7 linked regions of the Homo sapiens genome follow. The protein of the gene in region 7 interacts with the protein of the main gene of each other region in a biochemical or structural test. Each region holds a gene or a part of one and is shown on either strand. Other genes may lie near its edges. The genes, in order: AMOTL1, DGKH, TRAF7, RPS6KA1, REELD1, GHRHR and SIPA1L2.

Region 1 (3,500 bases), on a different chromosome or scaffold from region 7:
CCACCCATGTCCATCCTCAACCCTTTCCCCCATGGATGAGGCCTCCTGTGCCCTCTTCCCACACCCTATGGCATGGGGTGAGCTCCATGCTCAGCCTCTCAGAGCTCCTCAGTTTTCCTGTCTGCACAACAGGTACTCCGATGCTCAGTGTGAGACTAGAGGAGGTGATGAGCAGGTGGCACAATGTGCAGTGCCTATGGCCAAGCAGAGCCCCAGAGGGCCAGTTCCCACTCCTCTGTCGTACTGGGTGGCACAGAGGCTGGCCAAAGCCACTGATTTCTTCCCTTCCCTCTCCAGCTTACACCTCTTGTCTTCCTTCTGTCACCTCAATTTGGGGAGGCTATAACTTCACCGGGGTTACACACCCAAGACCAGTCCATTTTAGGATCCAAGCAAAGTTTCCTGAGTAGCACTCTCTTGAGTGTTTCATTTAGAAGGTACTTGGAAGAGGTACCCCCCTTTCTTTCTTCCTCTAAGTAAGCATGAGCAAAGGGAACTGGGAAAACAGCGATCCAGCTGACCTGGAGGTACAAAAACATCAGGACCCTGTAGGAGCATCTCTCTGATGGCCCGATGAGCTTCTCCTCTTTTCTAATCCAGCATCTCTTAGATTTGTAAAGGAAGCCAGTGTCTGCAGAGCTGAATATGCAATGTCACAGCAGAGGTCTAATGGACCCACCACCTAACACACTCCTGCCTCTTTTCCGTGGCACTTCTGTCTCACTTTGAATAAACTGCCTCAAAACTGAAACCCGGAAAAACCTGACAACACTGTATATACAACTGGCCTGGTAGGTTACAAAAGAAGTTCACAACAGAGGCAACCTGGTGCCACGGAGGTCTGGATGCTGATCGAGAGCAAGCAGAGGCGTGCGCGGGGGAGGAAAGAGTGTGAATACGCTCATGAGCCTCAATACAAGAAGCTATACGGGAGGCTGGTGAGATTCTGGAAACCACTGAGACAACTGTCTGTAAATTGTCATCTGTTTCCTGGAGTGCTGTCCTAAGTCTTCCCCAAACAGAGCAATGGAATTTGGAAATGTCAAGCTCCTTGCAAGACAGCCGATGTGAAAGACAAAAAAGCAAGTGCCACGATCTTAATGCAATATGTCACAGGGACCCACGGAATCTCCTGCCTCCTCAAAGCTTGCTTAGTTCACAGTCAGAATGAGGTTCGCAGCTGCAACCCAGCTATGCAAAGGTGAAGCAGCCAGGAAGTCGGCACGTGGCTTTGTCCTACTGGTCACTATCAAACACAGTAGGAATGATGACAGTTCAGGTACTGGTCTCATAAATCCCATACCTAAGGAATTCTGCTATGTCTTATTAAAAAGAAAAAAATGAAGGAACAACAAAAAATTAAAGACTGTAAAGCAGAGACAGAGATGAACTCAGAAGTTAGGATGGATGGGGACCGAGATCATAATCTATCCTGTTTAGAAAATACTGCAGAATTCAGAAAAGCTAAGAAGCCCAATCATCTCTTGAAAATCCAAACCAAACAGGTAATTAGGTGAAGACCAACTTTCATATTCCCCTCGCCCTCGATGCTTCTTCTCACTGCCACACTCACACTCACGGGACACCCCATGGTTGGCACAGGTGACACTGCATTATGCCAAGACAGGCTCTCAAGATTTCCTGGAGGCTTTTCTTAAATCAAACATGCTAAGAGGCAAGGAGAATGGGGGTATTCCAAGGATGATCCACATTTGGGTTTATCTGTTTATAATCAGAGAATGGGGGTACACAGGCCCTCCCCAAGAGATACATTTTCTGTACAATGAAAAATTCAGTTTCCTATTTCTTAACTTTGTTTGCAAACCTACACGCCTCTTCTCTCTTCCACCATGTGTAATAAAATCCATCGCATTCTCTTCTATCTTCAGTCATGTAGTTTTTGTGTTTAACATTTATAAAATGTGTTCTTATGAGTCTGAAATCTTTATCAGTTCAAATCATTCCTGATTTCCCATCTACAACCTTCTAGGTCTTTCTTCTTTCTCTGCCGCTTTCCTTGTTTGTCAGTGTTCTGTACTGAAATTCCACAGGGATGGCAGTTAGATGAGGACTTCCATCATCTCTCCATCAGGGAACTCGGGCTTGTGCAGCAAGCTGCTGACCCGGCCTCTGTGGTCAGGCGACTTCCCATGGCCAGGAGAGTTCTCTGCCAAATAGAGGGGAAACATCAGCTGCCCATTCCTCAGGAGGGGCATAGGCTTTCCAGGTTCTCTAAAATGGACCCACGTCCGATACCACTGCACACCCAGGATTCTCACCACAGGGCATGTGAGATGATCCAGCCCACAGTGGGAACATGCAGAATGACTGGGCCAGGATTCAGACACAAATACAAACCAGGATGGTGAAGGGAGAGGATTCAGAAGGTGAGGATGACAGTGGGACTCTGTACAGGAGCCCCTCACACCCTCTACTCAAAACTATCAGGTGCATATTCTGAGCTAGGCACTTTTGACAGGTTCTCTGGCTTACTTGGAAAAGAATCACATCTTTAAAAAGTGACAACATTGTATTTACTTGTCTACTTTGAAAAATGAAATAAACAACCCCCTTGGAGGAAACAGTTAACTTAGGGCCCACAGAGCCTGCACCTCCTCAAAAGAATTCCTGAAAAGGGAGGTCCCCATGACCATGATTAGTCTCAGGTTTTAGGATGTGGAGAAGCCAATGGTAGGCTGGGTACTCTCTGGCTACTTAAAGCCTTACCCATTTAAGAACATTTGTGGGATCCCACTGACCATGGCCATGGTACTCCTTTGCTTAAGAGGAGTGCCTTAAGAGGCCAGGTCTATTCTTACCCAGGACACTTAGGGACTCACTGCAAAGATCACCTCTCCCAAGTTGTCTTCCCGTAAATATTTTAAACAGCTCGTTAGTCCTGGCCCAAGTGCTGTGCCACACGTTAACCGACTCTGCAGGTCAATCTACCTTCTCCTTCCATCACAATGTCCTCCACTGAGGCCAGAATCCCTGGTAAGTTAGAGCCCTGAAGGCAACAGTGAACTTGTGCCTTTGATGTACCTGGTGCCTAATTCTGGCTCCCAAACATACCAGAGGGCATTCAGCCCCTTAGAGGGTCTGTTGTCACTCCATCCGGGGAAAGGTTAGTTAAAAAGTATGCATTGCCAGGGTAGTCTCAAGCCGTGCACTCATTTCAAATAGTAATAAACTAGATGTGTCTATATGCATATTTATTCCCGTAATAAGAAAGGGCACACATATCCTAAGTGCATTAGAATAGCATCCCCATAGAGTAAGAGCTGATGGGTGCCCCTGCTTCCTCTCTAGCTCAACAAAAGATTCTCTTAGGCCAGACAGTTCCACAGTTTTCAGGGGCATCAAGGTGGGGTAGCCCACATACCCAGTTTCTCTGCGGTCCCTTTGGCCGCTGGGTGTTTCAGGACGGGGCTGTGAGCAGGGGTCGTGCTCAGCCGGCCGCGGCTGGGAAGGGAGGCCATGCTGGGCCAGAAGAGCTCGGC
Region 2 (4,290 bases), on a different chromosome or scaffold from region 7:
TTCCCCAAGAATCAGTATATGTGATAAAAGACGTAAATAATGAAGTCTGTGACATACATGAACAGTCCAGTTGCAGGAGGCGGGGTATGAGGTTGAAGCTCACTGGTCTCAGAATCTTATACCCTGATCTCAAGTGTTCATATATGAAAATGTTGATGAACTTACATGCACTCTAACATAGGAGAAATTGTAAAATGCTGAATTTCTGACATTCAATACACTTTTGAAATTCAAGCAATATTTGATTTCATAGTCAAAAATGATCTCTCATGGCAAAATGTATGTGCTAAATGTTTTTATTAGAAAGTCAGATAGAAAATCACAAATAATGTGCTTTTTAAATTTACTTGTAGTCTCCATAAGCATATAATCTTAGCTATTACAACGAGCGCATGAAACCTATAAAATACAGTGGTACTCCCAACAAATTTGTTGTTTGACATGATTCAATTCAATTTAGAGCCATCTCTCAGTTTTCTTTCGAACAGTATAAATCTACTGGTTAATCCTGATATAAGTATGCATGGAATTTTGACCATTTCATATAAATATGTAACATACACGTTTGTTTGTTTGTTTGCTTGTTTGTTTAAGAGACAGTCTCGCTTCATTGCCCAGGTTGGAGTGCAATGGCAAGATCTCAGTTCACTGCAGCCTTGAACTCCTGGGCTCAAGTGATCCTCAGGTACCTTGTTCTCCCAAAGTGCAGGGATTACAGGCGTGAGCCACCATGCCCGGCCCCTATACAATTTTTTTTTTTACCTGCCATTTTGCCCATCATTAACACAGTTTATGAACTTTTTTCAGAATTAAGATTTGAAATATTAAAAACACTTTTAGGAAAGTCCCTAACTTTGTAAAAGCCTTAATCTTAAAAAACACATTAAATGCCATATTCTTAATTTACTACAAACTCAAAAACGTCACTATTAAAAGGAGTTACAAGATGTACTCTTAACTAAAGTGACTGAATCCCTAACTCTTTAGTAAGTGCATCTTGTCAACAGTTGTTCTTGTGTGTTGTTCTTACACACATGTATTTCAGAAAATAAGGAGGCAGGCTACTACAAACATTAATCCACTAGCTTTTTTTTTGTCGCTCAGGCTGGAGTGCAGTGGCACAATCTCTGCTCGCCACAACCTCCGCCTCCCGGGTTCAAACGATTCTCCTGCCTCAGCCTCCCGAGGAGCTGGGATCTCAGGTGCACGCCTCAAAGCCCAGCTAATTTTTTTATTTTTAATAGACATGGGGTTTCACCATGTTGGCCAGGCTGGTCTGGAACTCCTGGCCTCAAGTGATCTGCCTGCCTTGGCCTCCCAAAGTGCTGGGATTACAGGCATGAGCCACCGTTACCGGCCTCCACAGGCACTGAATAAAAATTATGTTTCCAAATAGGAGTTCATTGACCTTAGGGAAAATTTTTCATAAAAATAACTGTAGAATGAATTTTTTGCAAATTTATTTTTAAAAACGGTACCCCAAGCCAATGATTTTGTGGTTCCGTTTTCAATATCCTCGTTAAATTTCCCTACTGATAACAGACTCTCTCTGTGAAGATTTTTAAATTACAATGAAAATTAGAATACATAAAAATCCTTTAATATCCATAAGCATTTGCTTTGGTATGTTCATGATCAAATTAAAAATTAACTTTGAGACCTCACAGGTCGACAGCACAAGCTTCATTAACAAGAGTAACACACCATCCTAATGTCCACACAGCACAGAGGTAACTTCTCATTATTAAAAAGAACCATGGACGCATGGTTCTGAACCCTGCCTGCACTTGGCGGGAACCTGCGACACGAAAGCCTGGCCAGCCCTTGGAGCCATGCAGGGTGCGGTTAAGCCGCGAACACCATGTCCCACTTGCCTGCCTCGGGGCTTCTGCCTTCCAGACCGCAGCAGGAGGCAGAGGGGCAGGAAAGGCTGACCGGTGTCACCTTCCACCCACCCTCTGAGTGGGCCTAAGTGGGAAAGCAGCAGGGCTCACTGCAGCGCAGGCTGGTTGGCCAGCACATGCGCACGCTCCCCCGAACGGCAGGGAAGAAAAATTGAAACTCTCCTTTTAAGTTCCCTAAGTAGGAACTCGCGACTGCGCGTCAGCTTTTTCCCACGCTCCCGCCGAGCCGCGGGTTCCCTGCACCCGCCTCTGCCAGTCGAACTCCCTGGGAGCCCAGGCTCGCAGCCTCCCGCGCAGCCGCCGGGAATCCGTCCCGCAGCACCGCGGTCCAGCGCCCCCGGGCCCCGCCCCACCCCTCCCCGCCCCGCCCGCGCCCCAGGCCCCGCCCCGCCTCACCGTCTCACCATCCCCGCCTTCCCCGCCTTCCCCGCCTTCCCCGCCTTCCCCGCCTTCCCCGCCTTCCCCGCCTTCCCCGCCTTCCCCGCCTTCCCGGGATCGCCCGGCGCGTTCCAGCGCCCCCGCGCCCTCTCCACCTCCCGCTTTCCACGCGGCCCTCAGGCCCGCCTCCTCCGCCCTACCTTGGTCCGGATCTGCCCCGAGGTAGACACTTTGCGGATCAGTTTCTGGGGTCCCTCTTGCTCCGCTTCGCTGTCAGACGAATCCTCTCCCGGCCCCGCCGAGGCAGCGGCGGAGGTGACCGCGGCGCCGGCTCCGGCGGCCGCTCCTCCAGCGGCGCCCGGAGGGTGGTGCTGGCCTCCGGCCCCTGCCATCCTCTCCGACTCCTGCGGGGACACAGCACCGCCCGGCGGGGGCGGCGGCGTTGGTCAGCGGGTGGGCTCTGCCCGAGCGGAGCCCGGAACCCCGTGCCCGGCCGCCGCCGCCATCTTCCGTTTCCCTAGCTACCCCCGCGAGGTAAGGGTCGCCCGGGGCAGGCGCCCTCCAGGCAGGGGTCCACCCGGCTCCTCCGCTCGGTTCCCGCCGGAGCGGCGGCCACGGTGGGACGCAGAGGTAACGGACCCCCGCCCGCCTCGGACCCCTGCGCACCCAGCCTCGGATAGGACCAGCGCGGGTAGAGAGGATGGGGTGACAGGGTTTGGAGCAACATCTCTTCCACTCCCTTACGGTCTGGGTCCCTAGGATGGACAGGAGGGTGGGGGAGGCAGGAAACCTCTGCAGCCCACCCCGTAGTGGCGATGCCCGCACACCCCCTCTCACTTCTGGACAGCAGGGGCAACGCCGATCCCTGGGGAAGAATGGGAACCTGGAGCTTCCTCCCAGCACCCTTGGGTGCACCCGCCACCTCCTGAACCCCGAATCTCTCCAGAGACACTTGGGCCTCGCCGCGCGGTTCCAGCTGAATAAAAGTCCCCTCTGCCACCAAGACAGTCGGGGGCTGCCCCTCGTCGGTTTCCCCACCCCCAGCCCCACTCCGAGGACCGTACCTCTCCCGCCTCCGCCAGGGCCGTCGGGTCCCCTCAGCTCTCCTGACGGCGGCGTTCAGTTTCTGGCCCACCCCCACCCCCATCCGGCGCACACGGAAGAGAAGAGCATTTTCCGGGAGGTTCAGCTCCGCTCTGAGAACTTTTCGTTCAGAAAGAGCGATCCCCTTCGGCTAACAGGAAACTGGGAAGGGCGTGGAGAAAGCGCAGAAACAAGAGACTACACGCAGCCCAAGACGACAGAACGCACAAGAAGTGTCTAAGCTGAAGCGCTAACCGAGATTGCCTGGAAGAAAACAATACACTCGAGCCATGCGAACACCAGTACCCGAGACAAAAAGCCTTGGAAGTCCTGGCAGAGCCACTCCCTAGCCCGGACTAGAGCAGGAGGAAGTGGGATCAACAGGCTGTAGCCACCGCGCACAACTCCCCTGCAAGCTGGCTGCGCGGGCACTTGGGAACCGCGGACTGGCAGCGGGTTGTGCACGCTCAACGTCAAAGAAGCCTCACAGGTGTGAGGGGGCTGCGGTGAGGGGGCTGCGAGAGAAGACATTAAAACGACAGATCCCTCTTGTCATCCAAAGAGAACACCAAACTGGTGTTAGCTATATTTTTAAATAGGACAAAAAGTCCCTGCCAGACTGTGGAGTCTCTCCACCTGGAGAAAGCATTCAATCTCTGTTATGTTCATGCCTTTCAGTACCATTCCTTTCGTATTTTTTCAGTTGACATGACCTTTAAGGTTCCTCCAAACTAAGGTTCTAATTTTTTTTTTTAACTTGCAGTCTTACTCCCAACAAGAAATTTGATATATTAGAGCTAACAGTTCTAAGAAGTTTTAAGAAATAGTATGCAATCCCAATACTGGACATCACACTGTAAATTAAATTCATTAAAATGTAAAATGTGTTTAGTTCAAATATTTAAAGACAGGAGACTGCTGCTAT
Region 3 (3,500 bases), on a different chromosome or scaffold from region 7:
CCAGAAAAGAAGTTTTTAATTAATTGAACAAACACACCTGTGTGCCGGGCGCTGTGCTAGGCCGAGGGCGAGTTGGGTATGTCTGGGCCCCGTCCCCTGGGCCTCTGCCTGCCTCGGTCTCCACAACCCGAAGCCACGAGTCCTCCATGTCTGTGGTTCCCATAATCACCTGCTATCCCCATGGGTCACGGTGGCTTTCAAGAGAGGCGGGTACCTTCTCTGTTTGCTGATAGGCCCACACAGGGAGTCCCCCTCCTGCCCTTCCCCCGTCCCCCAGGCCTGCCTGCTGTCAGCCCCTACGCCCAAGAGGGTGGGAGACTCTGGGGTAGTATTGGGCAGGCCCGGGAGAGTGGTTCCCGTGCCAGCTCCTGCTCTGCTCTCGCCCCTGGGGCTCCCTCTGCTGCTGTGGGGCCTTGTGACTCACTTTCTCTGACTCCCTTCTGTTCCCCATGTGCTGCTTCCATGCAGACGGGCCCTTGGGACCCAAAGGGAGGTGGGTACATGGCACACAATGCCCCCCGCCGGCCTTGGGACTGGTTTGCCTCTGTGCTCTGTGGGTTTCATACCCAGGCTGCCGGGAAGGGGGCCAGAGGCTCGGCAGAGCAGCAGCTGGGCCCCTCTGCAGTCAAAGCACCAGGAGAGAAGCCTTGGGCAGTGTGGCTCTTGGAAACTTCTGGAGGTTTCCAGGCCAGAGGGGAGGAAGGGACAGTGTCTGCCCCTCCCCCAGGCTCCCTTGTCGGTGGCTCAGCCAGAGGCAGGCACCTGTGGCCCTCACTCCTGCCCTCGGGAAGCTCAGCCGAGGTTCTCTGGGGGCCTGGCCCTGCCTTCCCTCTGAGCCTCCCAGCTGGGCCTGGTGTCCCCCACCAGCAAGGCCAGACAAGCAGCCAGGCCCGGGGGGCACCTGGAGCCCAGCCGTCGCTCCCTGCCAGCATTCCTGGCCCTTCCATCCTGCGGTCACGGCCTCGGCTGTCCAGGATTGGCTGGTGGAGGTGCCCCCTCACGGCCCACATTCCCCCACGGGAAGCAGGAAGCAGCCCGGGTATATGGAATTGAATAGCAGGAAGTCTCTCCATTTACACAAAGAGAGGTGGCAGGCGTGAGCGGGCAGCCCAGCACCCCGGCCCAGGCCGCCCAGGCGGGCAGGCAGGGACCTGGGTTGCATCAGCTCCCCACGCCCACCCACGGCCCCCGTGGACGAGGAGAGTACCCGCAGGGACCGGGGTGGCCCCAGGGGTGCTGCTGCCCTCGCGCTTCCGCCGGGCTGGGTCCTGTCCTCCCCGAGGCTCTGACCCCGTGCGGAGCCCCCCGACAGGCGCCTCTCCCTCCACACAGCCCCCCATCAGCACTCCCCGCCGCTCCGACTCCGCCATCTCTGTCCGCTCCCTGCACTCAGAGTCCAGCATGTCTCTGCGCTCCACATTCTCACTGCCCGAGGAGGAGGAGGAGCCGGTAGGTGTGGGGGACTCGGCGCAGAGCGGCTTCCAGGGCTGTCACCGCAGCCGTGGCACGGAGGCACCTTCCCCTCCGCCATGCCCGCCCAGCTCACAGGGAGAGGGCGGCTGGGGCCTGACGGGAACTGCAGTGCTTGCTGGTCCGTGGTGGGGACTCGAGGGACCAGGCCGGGTCCCCTGGGCATGTTCCCCCACTCCCCCTTCTCAGGGCTGCCCGGGAACTGGCAGCGGGAAGCACAGGGCTCCAGCAGGGCCCTTTCTAGTCTCACCCCAGGAAGGAGGCGGGCGAGGGCGGCCAAGGCTGGGCGGCTGAACTCATCCTCCGGGGTTGGGCCCTGCCTCTGGGGCCACAGACCTCGCTCTCCCTCCTGGGCCCCGATCAAGCCCCCCAGCTCTAAGCAGGCCTCTCTCAGGACGTGACCCTGTCCTCAGAGGACAGCCAGGCCTGGAGCAAGAGCGCCTGGGTGCCTGGGTGGTGGCGGGGCTGAGGGTGGCCTCCCGCCATCGCCTGCCTTTCCCGCTTGGTTCCAGGAGCCACTGGTGTTTGCGGAGCAGCCCTCGGTGAAGCTGTGCTGTCAGCTCTGCTGCAGCGTCTTCAAAGACCCCGTGATCACCACGTGTGGGGTGAGCCCGCCGCCCTTCCCAGCCCCCCTGCTGCCAGAGGCCCCCACAGGACCCCAGGGCTCTCGGGGGCCGGGGCTGTGGCGCCCTGGCCTTGGTCAAGGCCTGTCCTGGCTGCACTGGGCTTGGGGTACAGCGAGGCCTGTGGCTGCCATGGCCATGGACTAGGGAAAAAGAGGACCCTGCGCCACCCTCAAGCCCGCCCTTTGCCTCCACAGCACACGTTCTGTAGGAGATGCGCCTTGAAGTCAGGTAGGTTTGTGCCCCGGCCCAGGCCTGACGCCGACCGTGCCCATGGCTGCCGAGCAGAGGCGGGCGGCTTCTCCCTTGTCCCCTGCACAGCGTCCGGCCCTGTTTGGCCTCTGCTGGGGTTGGGATGGGGCTGCAGCCGTCCTAGGGACGCTCAGGCTGAGGCTCGGGACCTCCATGAGCAGAGTGGGGACACCCCAAATTCCAGTGTGTCCAGACTCAGAGACCCCACAGTGGGTGTGGGCCGAGGCTCCCCATGCCAGGGTTGGCACCCTCTGGGGAGGCCTTTCTCACTGGCGAGGCTGTCGTCCTCCCGCACGGCGCCCGCTCCTGCCTGCCTCTCCGCACTCTGCCCTCTGCCCTCTTGGCCCCACCCCACACTTTTCCGGGCACAGCTGAGTGTCACAGGTGACACTCCCTCAGCACCTGCTGCTCCTTCTTGGTGGCCCACCTGTGCCCCCGTTCCCATGTTGCGTGCCTCAGAGGCGCAGATGGACAGATCTGGCCCCCATTAGAGGCTCATGCCCACCCGGGTGAGGGAGCGTGTGCCAGGCAGGCCGTGAGGGTCAGCACGCCCTCCTCTCCCAGAGAAGTGTCCCGTGGACAACGTCAAACTGACCGTGGTGGTGAACAACATCGCGGTGGCCGAGCAGATCGGGGAGCTCTTCATCCACTGCCGGCACGGCTGCCGGGTAGCGGGCAGCGGGAAGCCCCCCATCTTTGAGGTGGACCCCCGAGGGTGCCCCTTCACCATCAAGCTCAGCGCCCGGAAGTAAGTGCCCCTCCCTGGGCACCTCTGCCTCCCTGGGGGCTGCTTCTCAGGGCTCTGGCTGAGGCCTCCCCGCATCCCGCCCTGGCACAGGGACCACGAGGGCAGCTGTGACTACAGGCCTGTGCGGTGTCCCAACAACCCCAGCTGCCCCCCGCTGCTCAGGATGAACCTGGAGGCCCACCTCAAGGAGTGCGAGCACATCAAATGCCCCCACTCCAAGTACGGGTGAGTGGGGGGCGGGCGGGGGTGGGCCGGGGTGGGCGCAGGCCCTCCACAGGCTCCGCTGAGAGCTGCCCGCTTGCTGGTCCCGGGGAGGTAGGCCGGAGCTGGGGCCACACCGGGGTCTGTAATCCTCTCTGAGGCCCAAGGCCCTGGAAACCCAGAGGGGGAGCCGAGGGCGTCCAGGA
Region 4 (3,500 bases), about 210 Mb from region 7:
CAGTGAGCCGAGATCACGCCACTGCACTCCAGCCTGGTGACAGAGTGAGACTCTGCCTCAAAAAAAAAAAAAAAAAAAAATTGGCCAGGCGTGGTGGCTCATGCCTGTAATACTAGCACTTTGGGAGGCTGAGGAAGGCGGATCACCTGAAGTCAGGAGTTTGAGACCAGCCTGACCAACATGGAGAAACCCTGTCTCTACTAAAAATACAAAATTAGCTAGGCGTGGTGGCGTGGGCCTGTAATCCCAGTTACTCGTGAGGCCGAGGCAGGAGAATCACTTGAACCCGGGAGGCAGAGGTTGTGATGAGCCGAGATTGCACCATTGCACTCCAGTCTGGGCAACGAGAGTGAAACTCCGTCTCAAAAAAGAAAAAAATATATATACAAAAATTAGCCAGGCGTGGTGGCATGTGCCTGTAATCCCAGCTACTCAGGAGGCTGAGGCAGGAGAATTGCCTGAACCTGCGGAGCGGAGGTTGCAGTGAGCCGAGATCACACCACTGCCCTCCAGTCTGAGCGATAGAGTGAGACTCCATCTCGGGAAAGAAAAAAAAAAAAAAAAAAAAAAGAACAGGCTTTTGGACATGGCTGCCTAGGTTCATTTTGGGCAGTGTGTTTCAACTAAGTTTATCACAATATTGATTACCCCTTGACTGAGACCTCTCATGTGTCCTTTGACTTTTTTTTAATGGGACAGGGTCTCACTCTGTCACCCAAGCTGGAGTGCAGTGGTGTGATCTTGGCTCACTGCAACCTTTGCCTCCCAGGTTCAAGCGATTCTAGTGCCTCAGCCTCCTGAGTAGCTGGGATTACAGACACACCAAACCTGGCTCATTTTTTTTGTATTTTTAGTAGAGACAGGGTTTCACCATGTTGGCCAGGCTGGTCTTGAGCTCCTGACCTCAAATGATCCACCCACCTTGGCCTCCCAAAGTGCTGGGATTACAGGCATGAGCCACCGCACCCAGCCTTGACTTTTATTAAAAGGAGAGGTGGAAGGCTAGGGAGTGCTTACTAAGACCAGACAAAATGTCTGAGCAATACACACAATGCAAAACTAAAGGCTTTTTTGGTCCATGTACTGGATTGGCAGTTTCCTCTCCAGCCTCATAGTCCCAAAGCCTTCACTAGTCCATCCATCTAGTATGAATTCTATTCATTCGTCACTGCCATTCCAGAATTGATGCTCACAGCTGCTTATCTTAGGAGATCTGGCCAATGTACTCCTCCTGCATGTCTTTCCGGAGTCTTGTTCAGGACACAATCCTTGGCCCTTGCTACAAGTAGAAGCTGCAGCTGCCTTCCAACACACCTTCTATGTCAGCACACAGGGCTGCAGGAGCTGGTCCCCTTCTTCTGTTTTAATTTTTGTGTTTTCCTCATTAGACATGACAAGGACCACACCGGAGTTAACTATTTTGGTCACCTTACATTTTCTTTTTTCTTTTTTTTTTTTTCTGAGATGGAGTTTCGCTCTCATCGCCCAGGCTGGAGTATGGTGGCGCGATCTCGGCTCACTGCAATCTCCACCTCCTGGGTTCAAGCAATTCTTGTGCCTCAACCTCCTGAGTAGCTGGGACTATAGGTGTGCATACCAGCATACCCAGATAATTTTTGTATTTTAGTAGAGATGGGGTTTTCCCATGTTGGCCAGGCTGGTCTCGAACTCTTGACCTCAAGTGATCCACTCGCCTCAGCTTTCCAAAGTGCTAGGATTACAGGTATGAGCCACAGCACCCAGCTTACCTTACATTTTCAAACCACCTCTACACTTTAGTTCAGGCAAACAGTTTCTCCTTCCCAGGGTCCCCTTCCTCAAACATTTTTGGTCTAGAGAAATCCACTCATCCTCCAAGGCTTCCCGCTCCTTAGGTGTCCCCTTGGCCTCTGGGCCCACCCTCTACAAGACTACACCACCACTCCCAGCTCCCCAGCGCGTCGGATATCCACGCACACCAGTCACAGCACCGGCTGCACCACACTGTCGGGTATGCTTAGCCTCTCCTGCCCAGCCTGTGAGCCCTTCACAGCAGGGACCCAGGCTTTTCATCTTTCTCCTCCCTCTGAAGCTGCCACCATACCTCCTGGGGGATGACTTCCACACCCACCAGGCTGGCCTTAGGATACCAAAGCCACCCATAACGTCCTTAAGGCTGACGCCTCCTACTGCCCCCACTACCTCCCCAGCTAGGATTTGGCTCTGACTGGGATCAGAGGTGCACACCACCACACCCAGCTCATTTCTTTGTATTTTTAGTAGAGACGGGGTTTCAACATGTTGGTCAGGTCTTGAACTCCTGACCTCAAATGACCCGCCCACCTCAGCCTCCCAAAGTGCTGGGATTACAGGTGTGAGCCACCGCGCCCGGCCTTGACTTATTTAAAGAGAGACTTGGCTATGACTCTGCCGGGTCAGTGGTCACACTGGTTCCCAGGCCAAGTGGTCAGTATCCAACCCAAAGCCCACTACCAACCATCTTCACACCCTTTGTAAGTCCCCAGAACTCTAACCTTGGCTCGGGGCTCCCTTCTGAACCTCTCTGCCATCCAGCTCTGTGGCCCTGCCTGGACTCACCCTCTCTTGCCTAGCCCAGCTGCCTCCCTGGGCTCCCTGCCTCTTCACTCACGCCCTTCTCTCAGGCCCCTGAGTTAGGGGCCACAGAGGTCTCCCCCAGACTCTTCTAGCATCAACAGTCAGAATGCCTCTGCTTGACCAGCTTGGTAGTTGAGGGCCCCGCCCCCTGACAAACACATTGCATTTACCCTATTACCACCTTCCAGACCTTCACAGCCAGTCACTAGCACTTGGCTTAGGGGGAGGAGGATTGGCTGGCGAGGGATAGCTGAGAAATAGGCCTGTTTCTCCACCTTTGAACTAGGTGCTCCTGAAGACAGAGCTGTCTCCCTTGCCAGACCCAAGGCCCTTGAAGTCTGGGCTGCCTCCCTCAGCCAAGCCTGGGTTCTGCACAGGGAGGTGTCCCCACTCACCTTTCAGCGTTGCCTTCTTCAGCACCTTCATAGCATACAGGTGCCCACTGTCAGGCCGGGTGACTTTCCGCACCAGGAAGACCTGAGAAGGCAGAGCAGGAAGCAGGGCAGAAGATGGGAGAGGTCTGAGTCCAGGCTGACCTCTATCTTCTCTGAGCCCCAAGCTGACCTTTTTGCTCTCCCTGGGTACCAAGGTGACCTCTGATCCTTTGGGCCCCTAGGTGACCCTTGACCCCCACCTCTAACATGACGAGTGTTGCCTTCACAGCTATGGGCTCATGACTCACTTTGCCAAAGGATCCCTGGCCCAGAACCTTGAGGAGCTCGAAATGGGATGGATCAGCCTTCTCAGAGCCAGCCTTGACGTGGTGCGTGATGGAGATCTCCTTGAGGACGCCCTCATCCTGATGGAGGGACAGAGCTGGTGGGCATGGTGGGCCCCATCCAGGCAGCAGGAGGCTCCCCTGCCCAAGTCCATTCCCACCAGACCACAGCAGATGGAACCTAAAG
Region 5 (3,500 bases), on a different chromosome or scaffold from region 7:
CCGCATGGAGCCCAGATTGCTGATGCCAAACCTTCACCAGAGGCTGGGCGATGTTGAAGGAGCTGCTCCAGGTACAGCTTGTCATTGTATTTGCCAGGCTGGTTGTCATCATTATTTTTACAGTTATCTATTTTCACTTAAAAGTTACTACTGCCAGTTTCCTGTTCCTGCAAAACAAGCAATAAACACCTGCCGTGGCCAACTGCAGCAGTTCTTGGGGATGTGATAACGCAGCAGTGAGAGGGAGGGAACGCTTGCAGTTGCTTTGTTTGTTGCAGCAAACACACTTTGTCTGGCTCAACCTAACACATTAAGTCAGGCCCCAGGGTGGACAGTGAGAGCTGTGCTGCAATACCAAAAAACAGCATACACCTCTTCCCCCAACATTTACTAGTCCTCACAATATTTCTGCTGTTTTCCTTAGTCCCCTGAAGCTACGCAGGGAGCACAAAAAAGAAATGAGCTTTTCTTCGTCTTTTCTCATAAAAACGCATCCAGTTTTTATTGTTACTTTTCATAGTAGGTAGGTGGCTCTTTGCAACCTGGGTTGGAGAACAGAATCAGGAATCACTGTTTCAATGGGAAGGGATTTTTCCTTGCTCACTACATGGCTTTATATTCCATTAGTCCATGAACTCCTGAAAAAAGAAAAGAAAAGCAACAAAACAAAGGAAAACCACTAGCCAGCTAGAGGCTGTTTGACCTATCTGAAAATCCCTGGTGGTATGGAACTCCTTTTTGTTGTTTATTTCTAGTTAAGTGCTATGAACACAAGCACTCGTAAAAGCATCCAGACACATGCACACAAGACCCTACCCTTAATCCATTCATTCTCCTCTTCGCTTATTCTTTCCTTTACTCTTTGCTAATATGTTAAGGCCAGAATCCAATCAGAATCCCTGCCTCTTCTCAGTCTAGCAGACCCAGGTACAGAGACAGTGGGGACCACCCTCCATTCTCTGCCTTTGCCCCACAACCTTTGTCTTCTTCTATTACCCAGCACAACTCCTCCAACCTTCCCACCAAGACACTCCTAAAAGCAGAGTAAAGATCTCGGAGCCTGAGACCATGGCCTGGAGAAGACCCTGCACCCCTGACATATGTTTGAAATCTCATGTTTTATTTTATGAATGATGCAAGTATCATGTTTTAATCCCAAGTATAACCATGTTTGTTTGAACATGAATATGAATAAAAGTGAAGCTTCAGGAAGAAGTGTCATGTGGAGCCTTGGGCCTTTCTATGCCTGACTCCGCTGGAAACCTTGTCCGCTGGGGGTTGCAGCCTCCAGCCCAAGCAGTTTACAGGGTAACCTCCTCATTACACTGCCCACATTCCTCTCCTTCTGGCCCCAGCCTGTCTTCCCCATTTGTTCCACTACCCAAACCCTAGTGATTCCCAAAGGAAAAAGAAACATGTATGTATGCTTGTGCACGCATGTATGTATTTATGTGCATGCGTGTGTGCATGTGTGTGTGTATGTATTCTGGGAAGTTTGTCTTTGTACAGTTAAGAAATCTATTTCACCTTATTTCATCTAATAAAGTGAAATAGGTTTCTTAACTGTACAAAGAATTCGTAGGCAAGTATAAATTATAAATTTTCAAAATTGGGAAATTAGTATATTGTATATCTGAAACTTATCTCCCAATAGACCAAGACACTTTGAGTCCTCCTCCACCCCATTAGGTATGGTCTACTTTTATATTTTAGTGCCTTCCCTTCTGACACTTCCTCAAACTGGACTGTTCCACACAACAGTTCTCTGCGTCTTTCAAGGCACAGTTCAAATATCTCCTTTGTGAAACTTTTCCTTATACTTCTTGGTAGGCAAGTATCTTAGTCTATTCCAGCTGCTATGACAAAACATCCTAGACTGAATAATTTATAAACAATAGAAATGTATTGCCTACATTCTGGAGGTTGGGAAGTCCAAGATGAAGGCACCATCAGAATAAGTGTCTGGTGAGGGAGGGATGATCTGTGCCTCAACAATGGTGCGTTCTTGCTGTCTTCACATGGTGGAAGGGGTGAACAAGCTCCCTCAGTCCCCTTTTATAAGGCTACTAATCCCATTCATAAGGGCTCCACCCTCATGACTTAAGCACCTGCTAAAAACCCCACCTCTTTACACTATTGCATTGGGGATTTGATTTCAACATATGAATTTTGAGGGGGGCACATTAAGACCATAGCGGCAAATATAATTGCTTCCTTAGCTCTGGTATTAATTGATTAATTAATTAATTTTGAGACAGAATCTCTCTCTGCTACCCAGGCTGGAGTGCAGTGATGCAGTCTCAGCTCACTACAACCTCCACCTCCTGGGTTCAAACGATTCTCCTGCCTCAGCCTCCAAGTAGCTTGGAATTACAGGCATGCACCACTGCACCCTGCTAACTTTGGTATTTTTAGTAGAGAGACAGGGTTTCCCCACGTTGGCCAGGCTGGTCTCGAACTCCTGACCTTAGGTGATCTACTTGCCTTGGCTTCCCAAAGTGCTGGGATTACAGGCGCGAGCGCCCGGCCTCTTTATTAATTTAGGTAGTTTGACATGTAAGGGTGTCTCTTCCCAGTTTTGAGTTCAGGGACACCAATTACAAGTCTGCATTATGTTTGCATCTCCAACAACTATAACAATACCCAGCACACAGCGGGTCTGCAGGAAATATCCAAATGCTCTTAGAGTTCAGGCAGGAATTTGAAACTATCAGTTTGCCATGTTCTGTATGTCTGGGCTAGGCTGCTTTATTCTTCACCTCAACGTTTTTGAGTGTTAAAAACATTGGAGCAAAGGGGTACCTCCTCCACCCCCATAAAGAACCTGGAGCCCTGGCCAGAGAAACTTCTGCCAACACTGTTTTGGTCAATGCCATCATGTCATCCTCATCATCATTGTGGTAAACCCTCTGTGCATGTTGCCTGTGTACCTGTGTGCCAGGCACCTGCTTCACGCTTCCACCTCAATGAGTTCATGTCAACCCCTCAGCAATCCTATGCTGGCCTCATTTTGCAAATGAAGAAACTAATGCTCTGGGAGGACTTCCCCAAAGCCAGAAATTAGTGGACGACTGAACCCAGAAAAGAATCTGACTCTAAAACCTGCACTTGCTTGCTTGCTGCTCCATGTGAAGCTCTTTCTCATGCTCTGGGCTGTCAGGTTAGCCAGTCACAAATGGGAAATTAGATGGTGGAGGGCATTGAAGGGCAGTGATCTCGTCTCTTCTCATAGCAGATGTTCAAGTCATTATCACCAGAGAAAGAAACTTTGAGTGTTAATATTAGGGCAAGAAAGATCTAGGGCTTTGAAAAGTCTTGATTTGTGGGATTTCACTCCTTTTTCTAGCTAGAAGCAGTTTTTGGCAGAGGTGAAATAAATATGGTGGTCACAGTGCTTTCTGTGTTCCCTGAATGGTGGCTGTTAAGAAGGTACAAGCCCAGACAGGCCAGGGACTCACTCTCTAAAAAGATATAAGCCCTTGCGTGGTCAGGGGCTTGTA
Region 6 (3,500 bases), on a different chromosome or scaffold from region 7:
GGACACCCACTGGAGCCCCATCCCAGTCTCCTCTACCCTACTCAGATACAGAACCTCCAGGCCCCTCCATGTTAGGCTGGGACCTGCAGCTCCTTGGGCCACCCAAGAGGGGATGTGGTGATATACAGTGAGGGTTAAGAGCACAGATTTGGTATCTAGACAGCCTGGCTTCTAATTTACTATCTATTTCCTGTGCAAATCTCCTCACACCTTAGCTTTTCATCTGTAAAAGGAAAAACCTCCAATACCTAGATCAAGTCCTCATCATAAGGATTAAATGGAAACTGCCTAAGACTTGCTTCTATTTTCACTTACCCCCATCCTTCCTGAGCTGAAGTCAATCCCTAGAGCTGTGACTTATTCAGCCACAGCTCTGTCTTGCAAAAAACACACACAGGCACCCGTGCATTCACTCACTCACTGCATGACTTGATCACCTGCCGGCAGGGGAGCAGGACCACCTCTGAGTTCAGTTGGCCCAGGTTTGATCCCAGCCCCACCCGTGTGCCACTGGGTGACCTTGCCAACTGTCTCTCCTCTACAAAATGGGATTAAAGTGATGCTTTCTTCTTCAAGCTGTTTTAAAAATTCAAGAGATAATGCCAGCTGACTCTTGAACAACAAAGGTGTGAACTGCTGAAGTCCATTTACACATAGATTTTCTTCCATCTCTGTCACCCCTAAGACAGCAAGATCAACTTCTCTTCCTCCTCCCCCTCAGGCTACTCAACATAAAGACGATGAGGATGAAGACCTTCATGATGATCCACTTCCATTTAAAAACAGCCAATTTTTATTTTCTCTATGATTTTCTTAAAATTTTTTCTCTAGCTTACTTTATTGTAAGAATACAGTATATAACACGTGTAACAGACAAATATGTGTTAATCGGTCATTTATGTTATTGGTAAGGCTTCAGGTCAACAGTAGGCAATCAATAGTTAAGTTTGGGGGACACAAAAGTTATACTTGAATTCTCAGCTGAAAGGGGGGTCAACACCACTAAACCCACATTGTTCAAGGGACAACTACATATGTAAAGCACTTAGTGCAATGCCTGGCACAAAATAAGTGCTCAGTATGAAGTATGATTAATTCTTTCATCAGTTAATTGAGGTCATGTGTTAGTTTGCTCCCTGATTTCGCTGTTCATTTCCAGCACACTTGCAGAGGATCTAGCAGGTGCTGGGTCTCCACATTCTGCCCAACTTCCCTTTAATTTCAATTGCCTCTTATTGTCTCCACCCCATCTCTCCCATGGTGCCTTCCCAGTTTCTTGGACATGGCCCAGGTCCTCCTGTCTTTGAGAGTTTGTTCACCCTGGTCTCTCCTCTTGAAATGTTCTCCTTCCCCATCTCCCTATTGTTGCTGCCAATACAGCTCCAGGGTCCTCTCCTCCCTGAAGCCCCCTCTCGTTCTCTCCTAGCTCTCAGCTTCCTCCACTTGGGAGTCCCCTAATCTGTGTGCATTCTGTCCCATGGGCTCTTCCTGAAGGAGGGACCCAGCTCCTCCCAGCCCCTTGCGTACACACCCCCAGCACAGACCTATGAGTGCTCAGGGAGGGGTGAAAGGAAAGGAAAAGGCTGTGCATAGTGAAACGTGGTCTAGGTTGGACTACAGAACGCGGAGTAGAGCATGCAATATGGGAAATGACATGGATCGACACCACAGTCCAGGAAAGGCGTGAGGACTTAGGGGGTGACATGGGAAAGGAGCATTTTCCTGTTCTGTAATTGGCCATGCGGGAGCCCCAGGGTCAGCCCACAGGGCAGGGAAGCCTGACGCAGGCACATCTGGGTCTGTAATCCTACCTCCTCTCTCCCCCACCTGCCCAGCCCCTTCACCCATGGCCATTACAGTGGAGAAGCTGCAGTGGTCAGTGTCGTCGCTGTGGAAAAGGGCAGCATCCTTCAGGAACACAGCTCCCGCCTTGAGGATAAAAGTGGTGAACAGCTGGGTGTGGACGTAGTTCCGGGGGCAGTGGAGCCTCCTGGGGGTAATGGGAGAAATGAGGAACAAGAAGCAAGCAGGGAGAGGGGATTCTGGTGTGCTGCAACTGGGCTGAACAGGGCAGGAGGTGAATCGAATCAAACTGGATGCAATCAAACTGAATTGAATTGAGCTGAACTTGAGGCTTCAGTTTAACCCTTGCAGGACAGCTGAGCAACCATTCCTGTGCTCAGGGTAAGTGTGGAAAGAGAGGAATATCTGGTCCCTGCCTCGAGGGTGCTCACAGTCTCAGGGAACAGAGGCAGAAACGGCAGGTACTGCCCATGGGAGCCCCCTGGATGATCAGAGACACTCATCCCCATGAGACCAAGAACAGCACAGGCCAGATGCAGTGCTCAGACTTCGAAGGCTGGAGGAGGGGGTGGGGTCTTAAAGGGGACAGTGGTCAGAGAGTTATAACAGTCAAGAGGGGCTCTGGGCAGGAGGCAGAGGACTGTCAGATGCAGATAGGAGCTGGGCTTTCTCAGTTATAAATACACTGAGAACAATGAGGAATTCCAAGCAAATAGAATGAGCACCACGTGAGCAAAGGGGCAGAGGTAGGAATGAGTTCTGGTGTTTGAAGAGATGGGTCTACATGGTGGGGAAAAGGGAAGGGAAAGTTAGACATGGGTATGGCGCCTAGATCTGGGAAGTTCATGGCTATGTAGGCAAGGAAGCAGACTTGACCCTCTGGGAAATAAGGAGCCAAGGAAGGTTCTTGAGCTGGTGATGAGGATGACAAACCTGAGAGCAACCAGGATGGTGATGGCCACGAAGAGGGCTACAATAGAGATGCTATGGCCCACGGTGTAGATAATCTTCACTGTGGAGAAGTAAGATTCCTGGGAAGGGCAGAGACAGAAGAAAGTCTCAGCTTCTGGGCCTTTGGAGGAAAGAGAGGCTTGACAATCAAGCAGGTGAAGCCTTTGCCATTCCACCCCAACACTCCCCATCTGGAGGCAGAGGTGTCCGCGAGTACCATGGAAAGCTCCCCCTGTGCACTGGAGCTTTAGTTTACAGCCTGCCTTCCACCTGACCTGCGGGTGAGGGAGGGGTAGTGGCGAGGAGTGGAGATGCTTAACATTCATGATGCTCTGAGGGTGAGGAGAGGCAGCCGCAGAAACTACATGTCCCTGGGGAATGACAAAAGCCCAAGAGGAAATCAGCTTGTTTATTGACATCCAGCTTGCTCACCAGCTTGGGAACACAATGTATCCAAATAAAGGAGATAGCCAGGGACACCTGGGGACAGCCACAGGCAGGCAGGCAAAAGGTTTCCGTGGCCAAGTGTTTGGATCAGTCAGAGTCCAGCCTGGCCCTGAAGATAGAGGGTGCAGGCAAGGGAAGGGAGCAGGGGCCTGGGCACTGGCCCCAATCCCAGCTCTCCTGTGGGGTCCAGGCAATCACTTCCTGTCCCTGACTCAGTCTTTCCATCTGAAAAATGGTTACAGTCATGCTTTACCTCTCAGAGATCAAGGGGACAGAGAAATGGGATGATGGGTTTGGGA
Region 7 (3,500 bases):
CAGTGTAAGTGGCTTTTTTTCCTAAAAGGAGATCATGGTTTAGCTGATCTATCCAATATGGCAGCCACTAGCAACACGTGGCCAATTAAATGTAAATTAATTAAAAGGAAAAATTCGTTTCCTAAGTTGCACTACAGTTCATGTACGTAATAGCCACATGTGGTTTGTGGCTACTGCTCTGAACGGTACAGACACAGATCACTGTAGAAAGTGCTAATGGAGAGTGCTGGCTTAAAGGAGGAAGAAAGGAAACAGAGAAAGGAGAGAGTATGACCTAGGTTAGTAAGTCCAGAAAGTAGACCCAACAATCCTACTATCTTTGGATAATCAGAATTTATTTTTTCATATGAAAGAAATTAAAATGAATATGCTAAAGTTTTATTTATTATTATTATTTGAGATGCAGTCTCACTCTGCCACCCATGCTGGCGTACAGAGGCACGATCTCAGCTCAGTGCAGCCTCGACCTCCCAGGCTCAAGGGATCCTCCTACCTTCCCCTTCTGAGTAGCTGGGACTACAGGTGCACACTACTGCACCTGGCTAATTTTTGTATTTTTTGAAGAGATGGGGTTTTGCCATGTTGTCCAGGCTGCTCTCAAACTCCTGGGCTCAAGCGATCTGCCCACCTCGACCTCCCAAAGTGCTGGGATTACAGGTGTGAGCCATAGCGCCCAGCCCCTAAAGTTTTATTTTTCTAAATTAAATGTGTGGGGCAATTATGCTAGAAGGTTCTAAGTGCTTTACATGTGTTACTTTATTTCATCTTCATTGAAATCATAGGAGGTAGGCGATATAATAATCCCATCTTACAGAGAGTAAGTGAGACTTAGAGAGAGTGTGTGAGTTGCCCCAGGCCACACAGCAAATTCCTGGATTCCAAGCATACTTTGTCTCTCAAAAGCCAGAGCTCTTAAGGCTGCCTGTACGAACTCCATTTGGGAATGAAGATAGAGGGAAGGTGCTCTAGATACTACCACCAGTCATGCATTAACACAAGTAGTGGGCCACAGCCTCAATAAACGGCTCCTTCTTAATTAGCATTCTTTCTCCTTTTGGCCTAATATTTTATGTTGGGCATGATTATTTTCTATTAGTAATGTAATAGTATTGCTTTCTAACCCCGTTCTTATCCCAGCCCTCCACCTATCCGCCTCTGAACCTTCCAAGTCTAGCCGTTCCTTTTCATCTATTTCTCCTGACAGTTTATGATAACGCCCTGAACCAGTTCAACATCTCTCAAGCTTCAATTGAGAATGGAGTATTTACCACAGAGAGTACCTGTGCTGTTCCAACATTCTTTCATACCTACAACTATTGGTCTGTTAAATATTTTTTAAATAATCAATGGCTTCATGTTATGGGAAGAAATTCTAACTGAATAGTTAAGTATTTAATGTGCTCAAGGCTGAGCTGTGATACAGAATTATTTCCTCTTAGATATAAGAGGTCCAGGGGAACCAGGCAGGTGCTCTTCCCCTTAGTTCAGAATAGCTCAGCTTTAATGTAGTCAATGTTCCATTAAAATGCTTAGCAAATTATTTTTTATCATCTATTACATATTTTAAAGCTCCTTTTCAATTCCTCGAACGAGTGACATCCCAACAACATTGTACAAATGAGTGACATCCCAGAACACTGTACAAAGACACACTTGACTGCATTTTCTGAGGACCTTGCAGGAGCACTGAGGACAGCCACCTGCTACAGAGGCAAAGGAGGAGTGAGCATTACTTGGGCCTCCCACGCCTTACCTTCGGGGCGAGCCGTCATCATGGGGCTGGATGATGACCACCTTCACAGTCACAGAAGTACGGAGCAGGTCGATCATCTGCTCGTGGGTCAGAGTGGCCACGGCTACTTTGCAGATCTCCACGAGGCGGCTCCCTTGGCGAAGGCCAGCCTTCCAGGCAAAGCCAAAAGGTTCCACATCTGCGACAATTCCTTCAAAATTCACATGGAAGCCAAGCTGGCCCAGCCCGTTCCTCCTCAGGGTCATTTCCACAGTCTCGCAGCCTCTCGTCACTATCTAAGGGGGAAGGAGACTGTTAGAGATGCCCTTCCTGCCCAAGCTGCCATGGGGCTCTGCCAAAGGTGCACGTATGGGCCTCCATGCCAGCCCTCTCCCTTGGGCCCTCGCAGCCCAGCCTGTCTCTCTCTGCCTTTTCCTCAAACTGTCCAAGTGACAGGACAAGGACACATTTAAGTTCAGAGCTGATCACAATTAACATTTGCATCAAGTGCAAAGAAAATAACAGAAGCAAAGCAATGGTTTCATTCTTCATTCTAAGTCATATCTGTTCTTGATACAGGTGTCCTGCTTTCTTAGATGTCACTGACCCAGAGCTTGAGAGCTTCAGATGGGCTCAGATAATTCCCGTTTTTCCTTTATTAGGTAAATTGACTTGACTTTTAAGCATATAAATCCCATCGTTCTAGATGGATTTTTGCAATGGAAAACCTGTAAAGACTTTGTGGACCATTACAAGTTTCAACCAGCAAGCACTAAAAACCATGAGACAATTTATTCATCCCAAGCAAAGAAAAACACCCCAAAGCACTTGAAAGCTAACGCTTAAGAGCCCACTCTGAGGTTCAGGAAGGGCAGTGGCAGAAAGTCAGAGCTTTAGGAAAACTCTAAATGTTCTCTACGCACCAGCCCTAGGGACATACTGTGGAGTGTTCTGTCCCCTAGGGTCCTTCTCTTGAGGACAGACAACTGCCTATGCTTGCCTGAGTGGTGAGGACCACTCAGATCCATGGTGGGGGCAGGCCAGCCAGACTCCTTGGCCATCTGTTCACAAGGCAAGTGTGTAGGATGGTGCTCTGGCAGGCAGCAGACAGACCCTCTGTGCTTATGGGCTGCCTCTCCTCCACTAGGCCTGTCTCCTAGGGGCTGAGGGCAGCCCCAAGCAATGGAAGCCTCAGTGTATGTACCTTACTCAAGAGTGAGAGAGAGTCAACAGCAGTTCCACAAAAAGGAACATGAAAGAAGAATGGTGGATTGCATCCCACTTGGTACATTAAAGCACCACTAATGCAGCCCTCAAAAGCACTCACCGAGCATAGTTTACATCCAATGAAAGAAAAACATGGGCTCATTAAGTATCACCCGATGACTATGACCTCACCTATCTGTGGGAATTTCAAGTTGGGAGGTATCATACTCCTATCCCCAAAAGCCCAGAGGCAATGTATGAAGTTTCAGTTTAATGAACACTCCATTTCTATGAAACATGCTCTGACTACATAGATACCTATTTAATAAGACCTATGACAGTAAGTACAGCTGTGGGACTGGGGCTGGTTCATGTATCACCACTGTGTCTGATGTTTCCATGGTTACCACAAGTGCACACAATGCCAATCAGCTTTTCCCAGACAGGCATGACAGTTCACGACTCAGCAAAATGCGGAAAGGGGACTGCTGGTTTTAGTTAGTGATGATGTTTTAGAATATTGACGTTTCTAAAGTCATGAACTGAAGTAACTAAAACTTGA

Evidence for each region.
Region 1: the proteins of SIPA1L2 (region 7) and AMOTL1 interact in a test that uses a peptide from one of them, tested with the Homo sapiens proteins (one large-scale study listed by IntAct).
Region 2: the proteins of SIPA1L2 (region 7) and DGKH interact in a test that uses a peptide from one of them, tested with the Homo sapiens proteins (one large-scale study listed by IntAct).
Region 3: the proteins of SIPA1L2 (region 7) and TRAF7 interact in a test that uses a peptide from one of them, tested with the Homo sapiens proteins (one large-scale study listed by IntAct).
Region 4: the proteins of SIPA1L2 (region 7) and RPS6KA1 interact in a test that uses a peptide from one of them, tested with the Homo sapiens proteins (one large-scale study listed by IntAct).
Region 5: the proteins of SIPA1L2 (region 7) and REELD1 interact in a test that uses a peptide from one of them, tested with the Homo sapiens proteins (one large-scale study listed by IntAct).
Region 6: the proteins of SIPA1L2 (region 7) and GHRHR interact in a test that uses a peptide from one of them, tested with the Homo sapiens proteins (one large-scale study listed by IntAct).

What each region holds. Positions count from the first base shown.
Region 1 is NC_000011.10:94,869,356-94,872,855, reverse strand, and holds part of AMOTL1 (angiomotin-like protein 1), read right to left. Parts: coding exon 3,383-3,500; intron 2,168-3,382; coding exon 2,061-2,167; 3' UTR 1-2,060. UniProt on the Homo sapiens protein: Inhibits the Wnt/beta-catenin signaling pathway, probably by recruiting CTNNB1 to recycling endosomes and hence preventing its translocation to the nucleus.
Region 2 is NC_000013.11:42,047,158-42,051,447, reverse strand, and holds the start of DGKH (diacylglycerol kinase eta), read right to left. Parts: upstream 2,801-4,290; 5' UTR 2,675-2,800; coding exon 2,483-2,674; intron 1-2,482.
Region 3 is NC_000016.10:2,169,282-2,172,781, forward strand, and holds part of TRAF7 (E3 ubiquitin-protein ligase TRAF7), read left to right. Parts: intron 1-1,332; coding exon 1,333-1,449; intron 1,450-1,982; coding exon 1,983-2,075; intron 2,076-2,290; coding exon 2,291-2,324; intron 2,325-2,909; coding exon 2,910-3,093; intron 3,094-3,183; coding exon 3,184-3,318; intron 3,319-3,500. UniProt on the Homo sapiens protein: E3 ubiquitin and SUMO-protein ligase that plays a role in different biological processes such as innate immunity, inflammation or apoptosis. Potentiates MAP3K3-mediated activation of JUN/AP1 and DDIT3 transcriptional regulators.
Region 4 is NC_000001.11:26,546,761-26,550,260, reverse strand, and holds part of RPS6KA1 (ribosomal protein S6 kinase alpha-1), read right to left. Parts: intron 3,395-3,500; coding exon 3,278-3,394; intron 3,073-3,277; coding exon 2,991-3,072; intron 1-2,990. UniProt on the Homo sapiens protein: Serine/threonine-protein kinase that acts downstream of ERK (MAPK1/ERK2 and MAPK3/ERK1) signaling and mediates mitogenic and stress-induced activation of the transcription factors CREB1, ETV1/ER81 and NR4A1/NUR77, regulates translation through RPS6 and EIF4B phosphorylation, and mediates cellular proliferation, survival, and differentiation by modulating mTOR signaling and repressing pro-apoptotic function of BAD and DAPK1.
Region 5 is NC_000004.12:146,224,538-146,228,037, forward strand, and holds part of REELD1 (reelin domain-containing protein 1 precursor), read left to right. Parts: coding exon 1-71; intron 72-3,500.
Region 6 is NC_000007.14:30,970,453-30,973,952, reverse strand, and holds part of GHRHR (growth hormone-releasing hormone receptor precursor), read right to left. Parts: intron 2,835-3,500; coding exon 2,737-2,834; intron 1,991-2,736; coding exon 1,858-1,990; intron 1-1,857.
Region 7 is NC_000001.11:232,459,134-232,462,633, forward strand, and holds part of SIPA1L2 (signal-induced proliferation-associated 1-like protein 2), read right to left. Parts: intron 2,029-3,500; coding exon 1,754-2,028; intron 1-1,753.